Homo sapiens: one gene and its partners. The protein of the gene in region 3 interacts with the protein of the main gene of each other region in a biochemical or structural test. Each region holds a gene or a part of one and is shown on either strand. Other genes may lie near its edges.

Region 1 (4,387 bases), on a different chromosome or scaffold from region 3:
AACTTGCGATGTGAACAATGAGAAGTTAAGTAGGTATATTAGTCAATTTTCACATTGGTGACAAAAACAACCTGAGACTGGGAAGAAAAAGAGGTTTAATTGGACTTACAGTTCCACATGACTGGGGAGCCTCAGAATCATGGCAGGAGGTGAAAGACACTTCTTACATGGCGGCAGCAAGAGAGAATGAGGAAGATGAAAAAGCGGAAACTCCTGATAAACCCATCAGATCTCGTGAGACTTATTCACTACCATGAGAACAGTATGGGGGAAACTGCCCCCATGATTCAAGTTATCGCCCACTGGGTTCCTCCCACAACATGTGGGAATTAGGGGAGTACAATTCAAGATGAGATTTGGATGGAGGCACATCCAAACCATACCAATAGGTAAGGTGGACAGCATTGGAAGTAAAGAAGAGCCTTCTAGGTTGAGAGAACTGCCTGTGACTGCCTGTGCAAAGGTCCTGGGGTAGGAAGGAATGAAACAGTCAAGGTAGTCAGAGTCCAAAGGTTGAGGAGAAGGCTAACACAGGATAAGGCAGGACAGGTAGGCAGGGCTATGTTATGGAGGGCATCGGGGATGGTGGGATTGTGTCATGATTATATTTTGTGGTTATAAAGGTCTAACTTCAGGATAAATGCATTGAAGAGAAGTTGAGTGCAGGCAAGGAGGTCAGATAGGAGCCTGTTGCAGTATTTAGGTAAAATGGAATGTGGTTTAGATGAGAGAGGCAGTGTAGTTATCAACTGAGATATGAACTCCTAAGAGTACCTCTATCACTTATTACCTATGTGAATTTGATCAAGTTCCTTACCATTTGTATCTCCAAATTTCTTTATGCATAAAATAATTACTATGGTCTACCTAATAGGGTTGTTGAAAGGATAAAATGGATTAGTAAGTGTAAAATATATAGAATAATGCCTGGCATGTAGTACATGTCCATTAGACTTCAGCGGTTATTGTCAGTAATGCAGATGGAGAGGTGGATAGAATCAGTAGCTATTTAGATCAAGTTGACTGGATTTGATGATAGCTTACATATGTAAGGTTGGAAGGTAAGTGCATCAAGAGTGATCGCAAAATGTATGTAAATGTGTGTAAATAGTACAGTGGGGCACAAGTTGACCAGTGATAGGAAAAGCTTCTTGAAGGAAGTAGTAGCTGAATTGGACCTTTTAGGACTGGAACATGCAAAAGAGGATTATATAGCCCTGGTGAAAAGAGTGACCCAATGTTCTTCAGTTCTGAAGACTGCTGGGAGGAGGAAGAGTTCTTTCTCACCTGAGGCTACTTTACCAGAAGTTCTCTCAGTCTAAATCACAAATCCTAGTGATTGTGTATCATCCTTTCCTCCACTTCCTGCCAAGCTCAGCAACTCAAAATATGCTGTTGGTCCTGAGAAAGGAAACTGGGCTAATCCCTTCCTTCTGAGGCTGCTGAATAGGAGCTTGGCTTTCATCAGAAAGATGCTTTCACTCCCAATTATTACAAGATCATCTTGCAAATTCCCATTTTCTAGAAGGCTGATTGCTTGTTCAGAATGCTCATGGCAAACACTGTTGGTTACCCACTCAGCAGTCATGACCTCTTTTTCCTTATTAACACCTGAATTTGATCAGTCCATGGTAGACTCAGCCTGTGGATACATCATGGTGTAAGCCAGTCATGGTAATCCTATCTCCATTTATCAGATACTTATTCTTCCAGCTTCCTGGTAGCTGAGGGTGACTAGTGATAATATTCTGACATACAGGAAGTTTGCTCAGAAGCTTCTAGGATGTGGGAAGAGAAGCCCTGCCTTTTTTGGATACTCTCATATGAAGAAAAGATACTTGGAACTGCTGCTGCCACCATGTGAGACTGTGAGGAAAAGGTTAAGGGGATTTCAGAGACACCATCCCATTTTCTAACATCACTGAGCAGTTGAACTACCCCTACCTGGAACTGTCTACTATCAGACTTCTAGACTTCCTTTTTTTTTTTTTTTTTTTTTTTTTTGAGATGGAGTTTCACTCTTGTTGCCTAGGCTGGGGTGCAGTGGCGCGATCTTAGCTCACTGCAACATCCGCCTCCTGGGTTCAAGCGATTCTCCTGCCTCAGCCTCCCGAGGAGGTGGGATTACGGGCACTCACCACCATGGCCAGCTAATTTTTTGTATTTTTAGTAGAGATGGGGTTTCGCCATGTTGGGCAGGCTGGTCTTGAACTCCTGACCTCAGGTGATCCACCCACCTTGGCCTCCCAAAGTGTTGGGATTACAGGCGTGAGCCACGGTAGCCAGCCCAGACTTCTTTTGTGAGATATGAAATGTCTTTATTGTCTAAATCTCTGTTAGTTGGGTACTGTTCATTGCAGCCCAATGCACCCTCATTACTACACTGCTTTTCAATGAACAATATTTTACACTTTACAAGAATAACTACCTTCTCCTTCTTCTCCTTACTGGCCTTTCCAGGCACCCATATCAATAGTCAAGCCCAGCCAATTTTCCTCTGGGATTTCTGTGTGCATATTCACTTCCATTGCCCCCATCTACCCTTTAGTGTCTCTGAGCTAAAATATAACAGGAGACCCTTAACTGTTTTCTCTCATTCTAGTATTTCCCCCACATTACTGAAAACTCTTTTCTTGGACCATGGGTAGTATCATGTATCTACTCTTCTATAACCATCTATGGCTCACTATTGCCTCTAAGTTTCAAATGTCCTGGAAGATGTTCTAGGCATGACATTATTTGGCCCCAACCTGTTCTCTAATTCTTTCTGTTGCTTCATTTATCTGTCTGGCAAGTGGGAATAGGATTACCATGACTGATTTACACCATATTGTATCCATGAGCCAAGGGATGTCTATCCATGCAAATTTCTCCCTGTTTTCCAGCACATCATGTCCTTTTATGCCTCCACATTGTTGGCACCAATTTCTTTGCCTGGAATAGTCCTCCTTTTTATATCCCCATTTCCATTTTACTTCTATCAAAATGAAATCTTGCTCTTCCTTTAAGGCCCAGCTCTGATCTTCTCTTTTTCACAAAGGCTTTCACAAAGGCTTTATTCCCAAGTTGAAATAAATTGCCCCTTCCTCTGTTCTTCCATAAAATTTTTCATATATTTCAAATCAGTATTTTACAGGTAGTTAAGAACATGGTTTCTAGAGTCAGATTATGTGAATTCAAATCAAAACTCTGCTACTTACTAGGACAAATTTTCTGACATAGCTGAACCTCAGCATCCTCATTTAAAAATGTGGATTAAGGCTGGGTACAGTGGCCCGCACCTGTAATCCTAGCACTTTGGGAGGCCGAGGTGGGCTCATCACGAGGTCAGGAGATCGAGACCATCCTGGCTAACATGGTGAAACTCCATCTCTACTAAAAATACAAAAAATTAGCTGGGTGTGGTGGCAGGCGCCTATAGTCCCAGCTACTCGGGAGGCTGAGGCAGGAGAATCCCTTGAACCCGGGAGGCAGAGCTTGCAGTGAGCTGAGATCATGCCACTGCACTCCAGCCTGGGCAACAAGAGCGAAACTCCGTCTCCAAAAAAAAAAAAAATGTGGATTAATAGCACCTTGATAGAGTTGTGAGGCAAGTGAGATAGTGTGTTGTTATTATTTTTCTTTCTCTGAAGTAGTTATTCCAATTTGCCTTTGATTATACTTAGCTTTATAGAATGTTCTCACTCACTGAAATGATTTAAAGTTTTTGGAAAAAGAGAGATGAACTGGAGAAAAGGTAACACTTACTAAGTCATACTGTATTTCAGACAGTCTGCCAAATCCCTTACAAATCAACAACCTTGAGACAAGGTAAGGACACCATCATCATCATCATCATCATCATCATCATCATCTCTACTTTACAAATGAGGAAACGGAGGCTCGGAGAGTTACTTGGCTGCAGTCACAGCAAATAAGTGGCAAAGGCAAGACTCAGAGCCATGCCTGTCTGATGTCCAAGGTCCGTGCTCTCCAGGAGTCTCTGCTGTCTTCTGTCATGGAGAGGGCCAAAACTCTATTGTCCTAAGGCCCCTTCAACATTTCATGTTGTTTTAGCACAAAGTAGGTGGTCAGTAAAGTGTGTTGAATGTGATGTGTAATACAAAAACGAGGCAGGCAGATCACAAGCTCAGGAGTTCAAGACCAGCCTGGCCAACATGGTGAAACCCCGTCTCTACTAAAAATACAAAAATTAGCCAGGCATGATGGCAGGTGCCTGTAATCCCAGCTACTCAGGAGGCTGAGGGGGAAGAACTGCTTGAAACCAGGAGGTGGAGGTTGCAGTGAGCCGAAATTGTGCCACTGCACTCCAGCCTGGGTGACAGAGTGAGACTCCGTCTCAAAAAAAGAAAAAGAGAAAAAAAAATGAGTGATAGAACAAACCTTT
Region 2 (4,387 bases), on a different chromosome or scaffold from region 3:
GTCAGATCTCGTCACATTGGCTGGTGCCGCAGCTGTTGGAGAGTATTTTTCTTTATGATTATTTTAGAAAAAAAATTTTCTTTTCCACAATGTGGTTCTCTTAGAAGAATGACGTATCTTCTTTTCCTCAGCGAGTTGGACACATTGTGCCCAGGGCAGCCCTGTCCTTGGGCAGCGACCGCACACCAAAGCTGGGAGGAGGCTGGTCCGGGGGGCCTGGGCAGAAGACAGTGATTTGCAGGGGTGGCTCCCAGACACCCTGCCCAGGGATGGGCTGGGCACCACCTGGGGGCGGAGCGTGAGCTCCAGACGAGCTCCTGCGTGCGCGTGTGAGTGTGTCTGCGCCCAGCCATGTGACCCCGCTCGTCCCGTCTGAAGGACTCTCCTAGGAGGCCAGGTTGCCCCTCCAGACCGCTCCCAACGTCAGGGGGAAGGAAACGTTGACTTTCACTGCACTTTGATTCGTCTCTAAACCATTTGCTGGGGATTCCTGAGAGCAGAGCTCCCAGCGGGCCCTGCCTCCCAAGTCCCGCCGCAAGGCTACCTCGGGTGTGTGGATGTGCGAGGGCCTCCCCCGCTTGCGAAGGGGACATGCGTGCTGGAACCTGTCGGAACTCCATGCCTTCCTCGCCTGCTCACCTGCTCGACGCTGGAATCGGGACAGGTGCAAAGGGACGCAGACGTCTGGGACAGCTAAGGCCCGTGTCACCGGAGGGCTCCGCACAGTCGTTCTGGTTTCAACGAATAAGCAAAACTCGGGCAAGTACTGCAGCTATTTGGAAATGTTTTCCAAACCACAGTCTCTTTAGAACTAAGCCTATTTGAAACGGTCGGTGTAGGCTTACTGAGATCAGGAGACAGGGAGGCCCCGCACATCACACAGATAAAGTCAGACAATTGTAATTAATACTTTTGCTGCCTCAAGTTGTTTTTTAAATAAAGTACTTTGAAATGCATGAGAATCATGCTGCAATATGATCATTCTAGAGCAAATATATATATACACGTATATATATTTCAAGATGAAACTAAAGCAGTTTTTAAATAAATTACTTGAATTTTCTGTGTATTTAAAGGAACGACTGTTTAATGTACTTGATGGGCCTCTGGTCTTGCCGTGTCTCCTGCCGCTGGTGGCACTTTGTAGATTGTGTGTTTGTGTCCGGGTGGCAGTTGGGTACCTGCTCACGCACGGTGTGTCTGCCAGGCCACGGTGTCCCAGGATCGCAGAGGGCTGACTTTCAAGACTTCAAGAACATTTTCTGGATGTGTGGAAACTTGAGAATGGCCTTGTGAATCTCGTGCTTGGACAGGGCAAGTCCGACTACTGAAAGTGCTGCCAGCTTTGCTGCGAGCCCTCCGGCCAGCGGGAGCCCCGTGGGCTGGGCACTGTGGCCCTTCTTCTCTGGGGGACGGCACCCCTGGCTTCCTCACCTCGGCCGGGCGTCCGTGGCAGCTCACTCTATGCAACTTGATCCTCTAGCGGCTTTAAGACTGTAGATCCCCTCTCTGAGACCTGGCTGTACTTGTCAGGATCTCGAGGCGCAGCTCCCGTCTTAGCTGGTTTCTCCGGCTTCTCGTCCTGACGACTATAAAACAGTTGGAGGCAAGAAAGCAGCGGATGTGGGGTGGCAGTGGCCTGACCCGAATCAAGATCCGACCCAAACCACACCAAATGTGGGTTCATCTGGGGGCCACCCCTTGCCTGAGGCTTCCCACCCTCATCTGAAGGCCCAGGGGCCGGATCCAGGGCTCACCAAAGCCGATTCCTCGCCAGCTGGGAGTGCAGAAGTCTCAGGGCCTGGCTGCGACTTGATTTTTAGGAGGAAGAGGGGCTTCGCAACCCCCCTCTGAATAGTGTGTTAACCCTTGAGATCCCAGCCTCGACTAATCTGAAGTAAGGACAACAAAGGCCATTCAGTGCCCTCCACATGGCCTTGCCACAGTCACTGTCAGGGTATGAACGTGCCGGAAGCCAGTGCCAGCCAGGGACAGGCGTGACTGTTGTGTGCTCCTCGGTGACAGGAGTCGGTGGCTGCACACTTTGTAGACTCGTCAAGCTGTCAGCACTTCAGGTGTTTGCAAGCAAAGCCCTTCTTAGTGTGCAGGTCAGTGTGCAGAGCCCAAATGAGGGGACCGCAGGGGCTGGGGTCCAGGGTCAGTAGAGTCGGTTTCTGGAGCTGCCTTCCTGGGAGGCAGGTGTGGGTGACCGGGGCTCTGGCGGTGCGTGTGGGCCCGGCCTGGCCACAGCGGGGACCAGGTCACGACATCTTTGGCCTCAACCCCTCCCCTGCACTGAGATTATTTCCAGATTGCACTCACTTGAAACCGTCCGTGTCGTCACCTTGTGTCTTAAGGGAAGCCGAGAAGAAGGGCAGACGGGCAGGCTGTCTTGTCTGCAAAGCGCCATTGCGCCCGCAGCTTGTGTGGGTCAGGCTGCAGCTCGGGTGTCTGTGGCTTCTAACCTTGTACCTCAGACGGATGCAGTAACAAGGCGGGGCTGGGGACGCCGGTCAGTGTCAAAGGGGAGGTGCTCTGGCTGATAGCCTTGCCCGAGAGGGACGAGGAGGCCGTGCGGGTGCCCCCTGGGGAAGCTGGCCAGCCATCCAGTGCTGAGGACGCAGCTGGAGTTGGGCTCGTGGCACCCTTGGGGTGTGGGCTGTGCAGGCTGGTGGCCTGGGTGCCTCTGCACACTGAGTGGAGTGTCAGGCAGGGTGTGTCGGTTGGTCGAGTCTTGTGTAATGTGCGCAGACCAGTTACCAAACTAGGATAATGTTGGTCTCATTTGTGGTGGTTTTGTTCCCTATACAAGTCAGCTAAGTAAAGACTCTTTTAACGAGCTTCCCCTTAACACATGGCAGAAGTTTCCAGGTGCAGGAATGCGAGCTGGCGGGAAGGGGCAGAGGCCGTGAGCTCTCAGCTGGGCCGGCCTGCCTGTGTCCCCTTTCCTGGGTCTGTCGGCAGACTGGCATCATGACGTTCCCTGGTGGCTGAAGAGCTAGCTTTGGAGTGTTGTTTTTCTCACTCTCAGGCAGGGGCCTTAGCTGGAATCCTCCAACCTGCCACTGAACACGTCAGTGCTGTGTGCTGCCTCTTGGACACCTGCCCTTGAAAGCCTCAGGCCCCTGGGAGAAGCACTCTGTCCAGTCCTGTCCCCGGGGGGGAGGCAGGGCCACTGAGCCCTCCTCAGATGGTTAGTGGCTTCCAACAGCCATCAGGAGTGTTTCTTGAATGCCCCAGGTGTGGAGGACTTGGTCTGTGACCACCTAGAACCCCAGAGCTGAACAGGAAGCCGTCCCTGCAGCAACAAGAGGGCTGGAAGGGGGAGCTGCAGGCCACCCTCGGCTCTCCCACTGCTGGGGCGGTGATGTTCGGGTGACATGTTTGAAAAATACTCTTAAAGATACCAACTGTTCCCTTATATGGCTAATGGTTTGTGCAGCCACCAGCGATGGCGGCCCCTATTAGAGACCAGGTTTGTTAAAACACCAAATATTGCTGTCCACACTAGACATTAACCGGCTTCAGAAAAGATGGACACCTTTTCCCACGCTGTTTCGCTTCTTAACTTTGGTCCAGCTTTAGCCACCACACAGCGTGTGAGGGACTGCTGCTGCGGAGTCAGCCTCGTTTGTCCCTCCGCCTCCCACCAGCACGCGCCGCTTCTGAGAGACACCAGCTCCCTGCCTCCAAGCCTGGTGCCACAGGCCTGTCGTGAGGGACCCCTGCTTCCGAGAGCTCCTGGGGGGGTTCTGCCCTTCACCACCTGGGAGAGGTGTCAGTTCAGTTCCGAGTTGAACAAGGCCCGTGCACACAGCATGTTGGGGGCCCAGCCCAAAGTTCTTGTCACCTCCTCATGCAAAGCCAGCCATCACCCTCCGGCCAGAGCTCAAGGTGGCCCCTTGGCCAGCCCCTCCTTGGGTCCTCCAGGAGGACTGAGCACCCCTCCTAGCGGCATCCCTTGCCCTCCACAGTGCTGCCAGGGGCACGTCGCTCTGTGCCGTGGACTGAGACCATCCCCTGGTGACAGAATGACCCGTTTGTTGGAAATGCCTCGTTGCCAGAGAAACTCCCCAGGCATCTCGGAACGAAACTATTTAGTTCCATTGTGAACTGGCCACGGGACAGCTTTTTATCAACTTATTAAGTTGGAGCACTGTAATCGCGCTTGCTGAGTTAGCAGTGGTGGTAAGCGTGTGTTAAACACATAATGTTACGTTTTAGGAGAGAGAGGTCGTAAGGAAGTGTCGTGTCGCTCATGACTCTCTTCTATTAGTTGGGTAACAGTGGCCTCATGTTTGTGTCTGTGTGTACACAGAGCCCTTAGGTTCTGCTCTGTTTCTTTGCCAGGTGAATGTTTGTGGCATGCGCTGCTGTCCGCGCCCCT
Region 3 (5,275 bases):
ATGTTCACACAATGACGAAATCACCTAATGACACATTTCTCAGAACATATCCCTGTTAAGTGATGCATAGTTGTCGATATATGTAGGATTCCCCTACACCAGGGGAAATAAACAATAGAAAATACAACAGAAGAAAAAATGGCATTCACAGTAGAAACAGAAGCTGAACTAGGGTCTCTTACTGTAACAAAGAAGACAAGATCATTACGGAAAAAAAAAAAAAATCTGACCTCCATTGAATAAAACATTAATACCACTGATAAGTGGTTTCCACTCGGGATATAGATCAGTGTCACCAGAGGAGATTTTAAAAAATACAATTGCTAGACTCCACTCTCTAGAGATTATAATTCAGTTCATCTGTGGTCAATGGGACATATTTTTTTAAAAGCTACCTAGCAAATTCTAATATAAAGCCATGGTTGAAAACTACCAGTTTAAATATGTTTTTAAAATAACACAGGAGGGAGTCATTCTTCTAGATATCAAAATATATAAACAAGTTGTAGCAATAAAAATAAAAGCAAAATCCACTGTGAAATTAGAACAGAAACAGACAAATTGATCAGAACAGAGCAGGGAGCCTAAAAAGGTGAGAGAGAGAGAATGTGTGTGTCTGTGTCTCTGTGTGCATATATACGAGTGTGTGGATCTTGACATATGATACAGGTAGCATCACAAACCACTAGGTTATTTAGTAAATGAGATTTGGGAAAATTCGTTTGCCATAGAAGAAAATACAGAAACATAACTTTGTTAACTAGGAATGGAGAAATATTTCCTACACAAGACCCAGAAGGTTAAAAAAAAAAAAAAAAGGTTGGATCATAACAAAATTAAAGATTCCGTTTAATGAAAGATTTCAAAGAAAAAATCTGACAGGTGAAAAACAAAAGATGCGTATACCATTTAAAATCCAACGAGAGACTGAAAAAAGAAGAAAACTGCTATAAATTAGGGCAGAAAAATGGGAAACAGATATGAAAAGCTAACAGAAAAAGAGGCAAAGGATATATAAATGGCGAACTCAACCGAGGAAAAACACACACAGTATACGATAGGATATTCCACTGCATTAGTAATCAGATAGCTGCAAATAAGAACAATAACATATCACTTTGTGCTGGATTGCTCCATCTGTTGCATCAGATTGGAAAAAATTATAAGGTCAGAAAATGCCACATGCCAGCAAGAATGCAGGGAGCAACAGCTGGTGAAAGTGTCAATGAGATAACAATCTGGTCGTACTTAAGGGAATTATGCATATGCCAGAGAGAGGGTCCCCTGGGGGCAAGGAAGAACATGAATGGGGATAGGTGATGAAGGGGAAAGATACAATAAAATAAGGTGGGAGACTCTACACGGACCAATCATGACAGTGTGCCATGAAGTGAGTGCTAACTCCAGTCCGAGCCCCTGAGCTGGGGAGGGAGCGGAGCGGGGCAGCTCCGCGTCACAGGTCCCTTCACCCAACCAGCAGGTATTCAGTCTCTACATACCAGGAACTGCATCCCATCCTAGCGACCGAGTAGCAAAAGATCAAGCCCTTACCCTCATAGGGTTTATGTCCTAGTGAAGGAAACAATAAAAAGGAAACAAATAAGATAATGATAAGAGAGTGTTAACAGCTAACAAGTAAGACAGTGATAGTGACAGAAAGTGATGGAAAGAGGGTTTCACTAATGAAAGGATAGCCAGAGGTGAGATCCCGCAGGTCTGCAGAAAGAAAATGAACCAGGCATTCAGCAAGCCGAGAGATGAGATCCCAAAGAATTGCGTTCAAGGGCTGGGCGTGGTGGCTCACGCCTGTAATACCAGCACTTTGGGAGGCCGAGGCGGGCGGATCATGAGATCAGGAGATCCAGACAATCCTGGCTAACACAGTGAAACCCTGTCTCTACTAAAAATACAAAAAAATTAGCCGGGTGCCTGTAGTCCAGTTTAAATATGTTTTAAACTGGAGGCTGAGGCAGGAGAATGGCGTGAAGCCGGGAGGTGGAACCTGCAGTGAGCTGAGATCACACCACTGCACTCCAGCCTGGGGGACAGAGCAAGACTCCGTCTCGAGAAGAACTGCGTTCAAGGTCATCAAATACAAAGTTGTCATAGTACAGGCGACAGTGTGTTCTAAAGATGACTTTCAGGTACTTCCTGTCATTCAGCTCCCAGAAGCAACCTTCAAAATACCTGTTATATAAAATGTAAACTATAAGGGTTATTGTGAGAGTCCAACATACGGTGATTAAAGAATGCAAACTTTTTGAAGGGGAAGAGGGAGGAGGCAGCATCGATATGAATGTGCTATGCCTCTAAAAAATGTTTCTGGAAAATTACTAGGATCCACAAACTTTTCCTTCACTCCTTAAAAAGTAATTGAGTAATCATATTTTTTCCCCAGCACAGTGCCAGGAAATGAGGTTAAGTATTAAATTTTCTGTCTTTGCTTCAATTGTATAAGATGCAGGATCCTATTTATTTTATATACGTACTGTTTTTATGGATAAAAGAAAACATTTATTGCATGCTTGCAATCTGCAAGGCCCTGTTCCCTGAGCTTCTACACATTGGAGCCCACTTACATTCACAACAAAATACTATATTATTTCCACTTTAGAGACGGAACAACAGAGGTTAAGAAACTTGCCTAAAGTCAAAGTACTAGAAAGCAGCAGAGCAGAGATTCAAACCCAGGTCTTTCAAAGTGTTAACCACTACACTTACGTTTCCCCCTAGAGTGGCTGGCCCCTGCAGTGGCTGTAGCACATGGCCTTAGAACTTATTAGAAATGCAAATCGCCAGGACCTCCCCTCCCAGACCGACTGATCAGAAATTCTGGGGCTGGAAGGCAGCTGCCTAAGGTTTCACAAGCCCTCCGTGTGATCCCAAGGTATGCTAAAGTTTGAGAACCACTGGTAGAAATTTTTCATACTAAGCATAATGTGAAAGGTGAAATTACTACCATTTTGAAACTTCTAAAATATAAAATTTGTATCCTATTTAAAATGACTATGAAGAAACGAAAACAGTGTTAGTTCATTTCCTCACTGCTCAACTTCTTTCTCCCAAACTTGACAAAATGCCTAATCTCTATCCTGATTATACTATGTACAAAAAGGGTACTCTGATGAGCGTTAGAGCACAGAGGTCTGAACTCACTCTTCAGAAGTAATCAGAAGCCATAATAGGAAGAGAAAAAAACAATATTTTGAATATCAGCAGAAGCTTGATAAATCTTGGGCCATAACTCCAAATTTTGATCCCAGGCTCAACTCCAAATTTTTACAACATGACTTCAACAGTCTTCCCAATGCCAAAAAAAGAAGTTACAACCCCGAGAAATATTTGATTAACAAGATTCAAACTGCTTTAAGTGCACATACAGAGAAACTGTCCAAGAGTGTGTTTTTATCAGGAGTGAAGCTAAGGAATGCCTAATTACACATCAGACCCTCTGACAATATTCACAGCAAAAGGGGTTAACGTTATCCCTGTCCCTGCACACACCTGCCGTGTACGGCATCCTACCTGATCCTTCTCTTTTCAAAGCTATATCTAGACCGGGAGACTTTTCTCCCCAACTCAAGTACTCAATTTGAGCAGTACAGCTCTATGTGTATTCAAGTTTGCCTATTTCTAATAAGGCCTTTTTTTGTTGTTAAAGGGATGGAAGAAAGAGTATGAGAAATAAGTATATTCAAGCACCTACCATAATCTGAAATCTTCCATAAGCCAAATAACTCTCTGAAGCTATTCACTCGCATACTCAAGTCATTAATTTTATAAATTTCAGGTTTCTACTTATTCCAAAAATTTAAAACATAAAATTGAAGATTAAGGAGTACTTAGTCCAAGCTTGGACCACAGGAGAGCTATAAACCTGTCTTAAAATGCTTAATGACCTGATTAAGGTCATCAAAGGTAAAGAAAACTCTAGGAAGCAGCCTTTTAATCTGCCTGGCTACTTACAACCACCCACCTTTTCCATGCCCACGCTCTCCTAAGGGCTGAAGGCACTGCCAAGAATGACCTTCCTAGAAGGGCTGAATCCTATTTATTTTCTCTCTCCCAAATCTCCACCAAATCCCCTAAGAACTGGCAGTGTTCTGGTAAGAAACAATTTACTATTGCTCTCCTCCCCACCCACAGTTCAGTGCAACTGAAGTGAACACACACACACCCCAACCACTGAAAGACTTTCTCACTTAGATTCCTATCCTGCATTTTCAAAGTCCAAAGTTGTCTTCAAAATATCTTGCAAAATGCAGTCGTACCAGCTAGTCTTTAATCTCCACTAACATTGCCAGTTCTATACCCAAAATGGATATCGCAACTGCTATGTATTTTCATCTCCCTTCTCTAACAATCAGTAACAAGCAACCCAATCAGTAATAAACAAGCCTGACAAATAGCTCCTAAATTCACAGAGAAAAGAATGGTCTCCTCTCTTTCATAAGTAAAGCAAGCTGATAATGTTCTAGTAAATAGAAAGACTAAATGCCTCTTCAAGAAAAAAACATTTATATGCCTGGAAAAAACATCTTGGGTTTTTTTGTTTTTGTTTTTTTACTTAAGTATCTGTTCATAGTAGGTAGCAAATAATCTTTCCACACATATGCACTTTACCAGTTCTTTTAAAGACTCAGTAATCTAAGAAAGCAAAGCATAAGACTATGCTGAAAGAGCTAAGCCGCAGTTTACATAAAATTTAAACAAAACACAAGACATTAAAAAAATTCAACTACTCATAAATAAAGACCAATAAATCTACACTTTGGTCTGGGTTTCTGAACACAGGAAGAATCAGAGGGTTCAATAGGAGAGGTTATTTCTGAAATCGTAGGCATACCTTGAAGATATCACATGTTCCATTCCAGACCACCTTAGTAAAACTAACACTGCAATAAGGTAACAGAAATGTTTCTGCTTTCCAAGTGCATATAGAAGTTATATTTACAGTATACTGTAGTCTATTATGTTGGCAATAGCATTAGCTCTTAATTTTAAAATGCTTTATAATTTTTTTAAAATGCTAGTGATCATCCGAGCCTTCAGGGAGTCATAATCTTTTTGCTGGTGGAGGATTTTGCCTTGATGTTGATGGCTGCTGACTGAACAAGGTGCTGGCTGCTGAAAGATGGATGGCTGTGGCAATTTCTTAAAATAAGAAAACAATAAGGCCGGGCGCTGTGGCTCACGCCTGTAATCCTAACACTTTGGGAGGCTGAGGTGGGTGGACTGCGTGAGCTCAGGAGTTCAAGACCAGCCTGGTCAACAG
Region 4 (4,387 bases), on a different chromosome or scaffold from region 3:
TGTTTTTTTTTTTTTTTTTTTTTTTGATAGAGGCAGGGTCTCTCTGTGTTGTCCAGGCTGGTCTCAAACTCCTGGGCTTAAGTGATCCTCCCGCCTTGGCCTACCAAAGTGTTGGGATTACAGACAGGAGCCACTGTGCCTGGTCCTTTCTACCTTCTCAGTGGGATACTTCACAGAGCAAAAATTTTAAATTTTGTTGATATCCAATTTACTAAGTTTTTTTTTTTCTTTAATGGATCATGTTTTTGGCATCATATCTAACATACCAAGTCCTAGATCCCAAAGATTTTCTCCTTTGTTTTCTTCTAAAAGTTTTATAATTTTAACTTTTGTATTTTAATCTGTCATCCATTTGAGTTAATTTTGTACAGGTGTGAGGTTTAGGTCGCCATTTTTTTTCTTCTTGCCTAAGGATATCCAGTTGCTCTAGCACCTTTTGTTGAAAAGATTAATCTTCCATTGAATTGCTTTTGCACTTTTTTCAAAAATCAGTACAACCTGTAATGTAACAATGATTTTTTTTTTTTTTTTGAGACAGAGTCTCGCTCTGTGCCAGGCTGGAGTGCAGTGGTGTGATCTCAGCTCAGTGCAACCTCCACCTCCTGGGTTCATGGGAATCTTATGCCTCAGCCTCCTGAGTAGCTGGGATTACAGGCGCCCACCACCACACCCAGCTAATTTTGTATTTTTAGTAGAGATGGGGTTTCACCATGTTGGCCAGACTGGTCTCAAACTCCTGACCTCAGGTGATGTGCCTCCCACAAGTGCTGGGATTACAGGCATGAGCCACTGTGCCTGGCCTAACAATGGTTTTTACAATTTAAAATAGTTGGAACGACCTTGTAGCGCATGGAAATCATACGAAATTTAAACTGTGTCCAGAAATAAAGCTTTATTGGAATATAGCTCTGTTCATTCATATATATTGTCTATGGTAGTTTTTGCACTACAGTAGCAGAATACAGTAATTGAGACAGAGACCATAAGACCTGCAAAGCCTGCTGTTCGGCTCTTTAGAGAAGTTTGCCACCCTTGAGTTCACTTAAGAGACATGTTCCTTCCTGCACAGCAGTTCAACAGTATTTAATCTGAATTCATGTGGAGACTAATTACAAATTATTACAATCTCAGACATTTGGAGTTGTTCATAAACAGTTGAAACAAAAATTTAATCTGTAAATGCTAGGGTAAACTTGTTCATCTTTAAAACAGAAAGAAGTGATTTTCAGAGAGATGAAGTGAAATGCTTAAAATTTTTTAGTTGGTGATAGAGCTGAATACAGAACTCAATTTTTTTCCCTCATGGCCCAGTTGACCTCTCTTTCTGCTATGCACACTGGGGTTGATTATTTAACAGAGATATTTAAATGCTGTTTTTATTTCTTATAGGGAATAAGCTTGAGTGTAACTAAACTGGAGGTTACCTATGTGTTTTGAAATCTTAATTTTTTTCTCTCCCTCTTATTGCTCATAAAAACATAGGACAGGCCGGGCGCGGTGGCTCATGCCTGTATTCCCAGACCAAGGTGGGCAAATCACGAGGTCGGGAGTTTGACACCAGCCTAGTCAACATGGTGAAACCCTGTCTCTACGAAAAATACAAAAAATTAGCTGGGCTACTTGGGAGGCTGAGGCAGGAGAATCACTTGAACCTGGAAGGCGGAGGTTGCACTGAGCTGAGATTGCGCCACTTGCATTCCAGCCTGGTCGACAGAGTCAGACTCCGTTTCAAAAAAAAAAATAGGACAAACATACTTCCTTAAAAATCCATGAAAAGAAGTAATGCTTCTTTTTAATTATTCTTAGTAAATTCATGATTTTAATATGTTGTTAAAAAGGAAAGAAAGGAAGGACAGCCCCCATAGGCTGTCTTCTCCAATGTCATTACATGACCGGATTGCTCATATGTATGCTCTTGTGAGTCATCTTTCTTATCTCATTTTTTTTTTTTTTTTTACTCTTGACCAGTTGCCTAACTGCTATCACCGAGTGTAAGTGTTCCTGAGCCAGATGTTTAATGGAAATTTTCTCTCATGTCAAAAAGCAGGGATTTTAAGTCCAGAAACACTTCTTTTTGATGTTAGCAATGGAGAATTATTGGGATTATAAGGGAATTGAAATAAACAATCTTATTTATCAGAACAACAACTGTAGGGACTAATATTTTTCCCTGCTCACCCTGAGAGAGGCAAAAACACCTTTAAGGGCACGAAAACTTTTGAAATGGCACTAAGTAAGATATTTGTTGAAGTAATACTCCCTTTATTCCAAGCTACCTCAGGTCCATTAATTGTAACCAGATAATCTTAGTTGATCATCTAATGGGAGTGTTGCAGGGAGATGTCTGATAGTGGAGGCGGAAAGGAAGAGAGTGTAGGGTGCAGTATGTTAGAAGAATTTGTTTTGGAGTCAGATAGGTGAGAAGTTTGAATCTTGGCTGTTGTGTACTAGCTTTGTGACCTAATATAAATTACATATCTTGTTTCAGGCTGTTTCTTTCTCCGTACTTCATTGGTTTGAGGATTAAAATAAAATAACATATATGGTCCCTATTAGACATTTGGCAAATACGTTTTCTTTCCTCTTTCAGAGATCTTTCTTATGTGTTTCTCTTGATAATCAAGATGATAAGAGACTTATTGTGTGTCACATATTGTGATGAGGGCCTTATAGTCATTGTCTCATTTAATTCTTAAAATAACTCTGTGAGATAGACTCTAGAATTAATAACTTTTTTTTTTTTCTGAGACGGGGTTGCCCAGGCTGGAGTGTAGTGAAGTGATTATAGCTCACTGTAACCTCGAACTCCTGGGCTCAAGCGATCCTCCCACCTCAGCCTGTAGCTAAGCCTAGCTCACTCCTGCAGCTAGGACTACAGGCATGCACCGCCAAGCCCAGCTAACTTTTTTTTTTTTTTTTTTTTTGTAAAAATGGGGTCCTGCTGTGTTGCTCAGGCTGGTCTTGAATTCCTGGACTCTAGCAGTCTTCCTGCCTCAGTCTCCCAAAGTGCTGGGATTACAGGCATGAGGCACTGTACCTGGCCTATTATAACATTTTAAGATGAGAAAATTTAGATTTAAAGAGATTTATGAGCTTACCCAGAGACCTTAGTAAACAATAGAGCTGGGACATTGACTTAGGTCTATCTAACAGTACAGCACCTGTTCTTATCTTAAATAGTACACTCTACTGCCTCTAGAATTCAACTGTTTTTGGCAATAATAGTAGTTATGATGTATTGAGTATTTATTATGTTCTAGGACTATTATAAGTACTTCACATGCGTTTTTCATTTACTCTGCACACTAATTTTATAATGAGATACTGTTCTTTCCTCCGGTTTTACCAATGAGAAGCAGTGCAAAGAATTAACTTGCAAAAAGATATGCTATCTCATTCATTATTGTTGGGAATACAAAATGATACAGCCACTTTGGAAGACAGTTTGGCAGTTTCTTAACAAAACTAAACATACTATACGATCCAGCAGTCATACTCTTTGATATTTACCCCGAGGAGCTGAAAATTTGTGTCCACACAAAAACCTGTAGATAGGTGTTCATAATAGGTTTATTCATAGTTACCAAAACTTGGAAGCAATCAAAATGTCCTTCAGTAGGTAAATGGATAAACTGTGGTACATCCAGACAGTAGAATATTATTCAGTGCTAAAAAGAAATGAGCTATCAAGCCATAAAAAGACATGGAGGAACCTTAAATGCATATTACCAAGTGGAAGAAGCCATCCTGAAAAGGCTGCACATTTTATGATTCCAATTATATGACACTCTGGAAAAGGCAAAACTATCAAGAAAGTTAAAAGATCAGTGGTTGCTAGGGGTTTTAGAGAGGGTTGCATGAATAGGCAGAGCACAGAGCATTTTATAGGACAGTGAAACTACTCTTTATGCAACTTAATTAATGGTGGATACATGTCATACATTTATCCAAACCCTCAGAATGTACAACAAGAGTGAACCTGAATGTAAACCATGGACTGCGGGCAGGCGAATAATGATGCATCAATGTAGACTTATCAGTTGTAACAAGTATTCCACTCTGGCTGGGGGTGATGATAATCAGGGAGACAGACTATGCATTTGTGGGAGCCAGGTGTGGTTATAGTTCTAGGAACCTGAAACTGCTCTAAAAAAAAAAAAGTAAAGGCTTAGGGAAAAAAAAGTTCTAGAAAGTATACTTCTAGAAAGTATACTAGAAAGTTATAGAACAGGGATTTAAACCTAGACAGCGCTCTTAAAACACCATAATATAGAGAGATGGTGGGTAAAGTAAGGCAGTGTTAAAAACATACAATGATTCACAAATGTTTGGCTTTCAAAATGAGTAGTTTTTTGTTTTTCCTTTTTAGTCAGGTATTTATATAGAA

What was found. The genes of interacting proteins can lie anywhere in the genome.
Region 1: the proteins of MPP7 (region 3) and GDA interact in a test that uses a peptide from one of them, tested with the Homo sapiens proteins (one large-scale study listed by IntAct).
Region 2: the proteins of MPP7 (region 3) and SLC45A4 interact in a test that uses a peptide from one of them, tested with the Homo sapiens proteins (one large-scale study listed by IntAct).
Region 4: the proteins of MPP7 (region 3) and RSBN1 interact in a test that uses a peptide from one of them, tested with the Homo sapiens proteins (one large-scale study listed by IntAct).

The regions. Positions count from the first base shown.
Region 1 is NC_000009.12:72,155,053-72,159,439, forward strand, and holds part of GDA (guanine deaminase), read left to right. Parts: intron 1-3,767; exon of another isoform or gene 3,768-3,961; intron 3,962-4,387. UniProt on the Homo sapiens protein: Catalyzes the hydrolytic deamination of guanine, producing xanthine and ammonia.
Region 2 is NC_000008.11:141,207,289-141,211,675, reverse strand, and holds part of SLC45A4 (solute carrier family 45 member 4), read left to right. Parts: coding exon 1-104; coding exon of another isoform or gene 105-234; 3' UTR 235-4,387. UniProt on the Homo sapiens protein: Proton-associated sucrose transporter. May be able to transport also glucose and fructose.
Region 3 is NC_000010.11:28,292,242-28,297,516, forward strand, and holds part of MPP7 (MAGUK p55 subfamily member 7), read right to left. Parts: intron 1-5,275. UniProt on the Homo sapiens protein: Acts as an important adapter that promotes epithelial cell polarity and tight junction formation via its interaction with DLG1. Involved in the assembly of protein complexes at sites of cell-cell contact.
Region 4 is NC_000001.11:113,802,477-113,806,863, reverse strand, and holds part of RSBN1 (lysine-specific demethylase 9), read left to right. Parts: intron 1-4,387. UniProt on the Homo sapiens protein: Histone demethylase that specifically demethylates dimethylated 'Lys-20' of histone H4 (H4K20me2), thereby modulating chromosome architecture.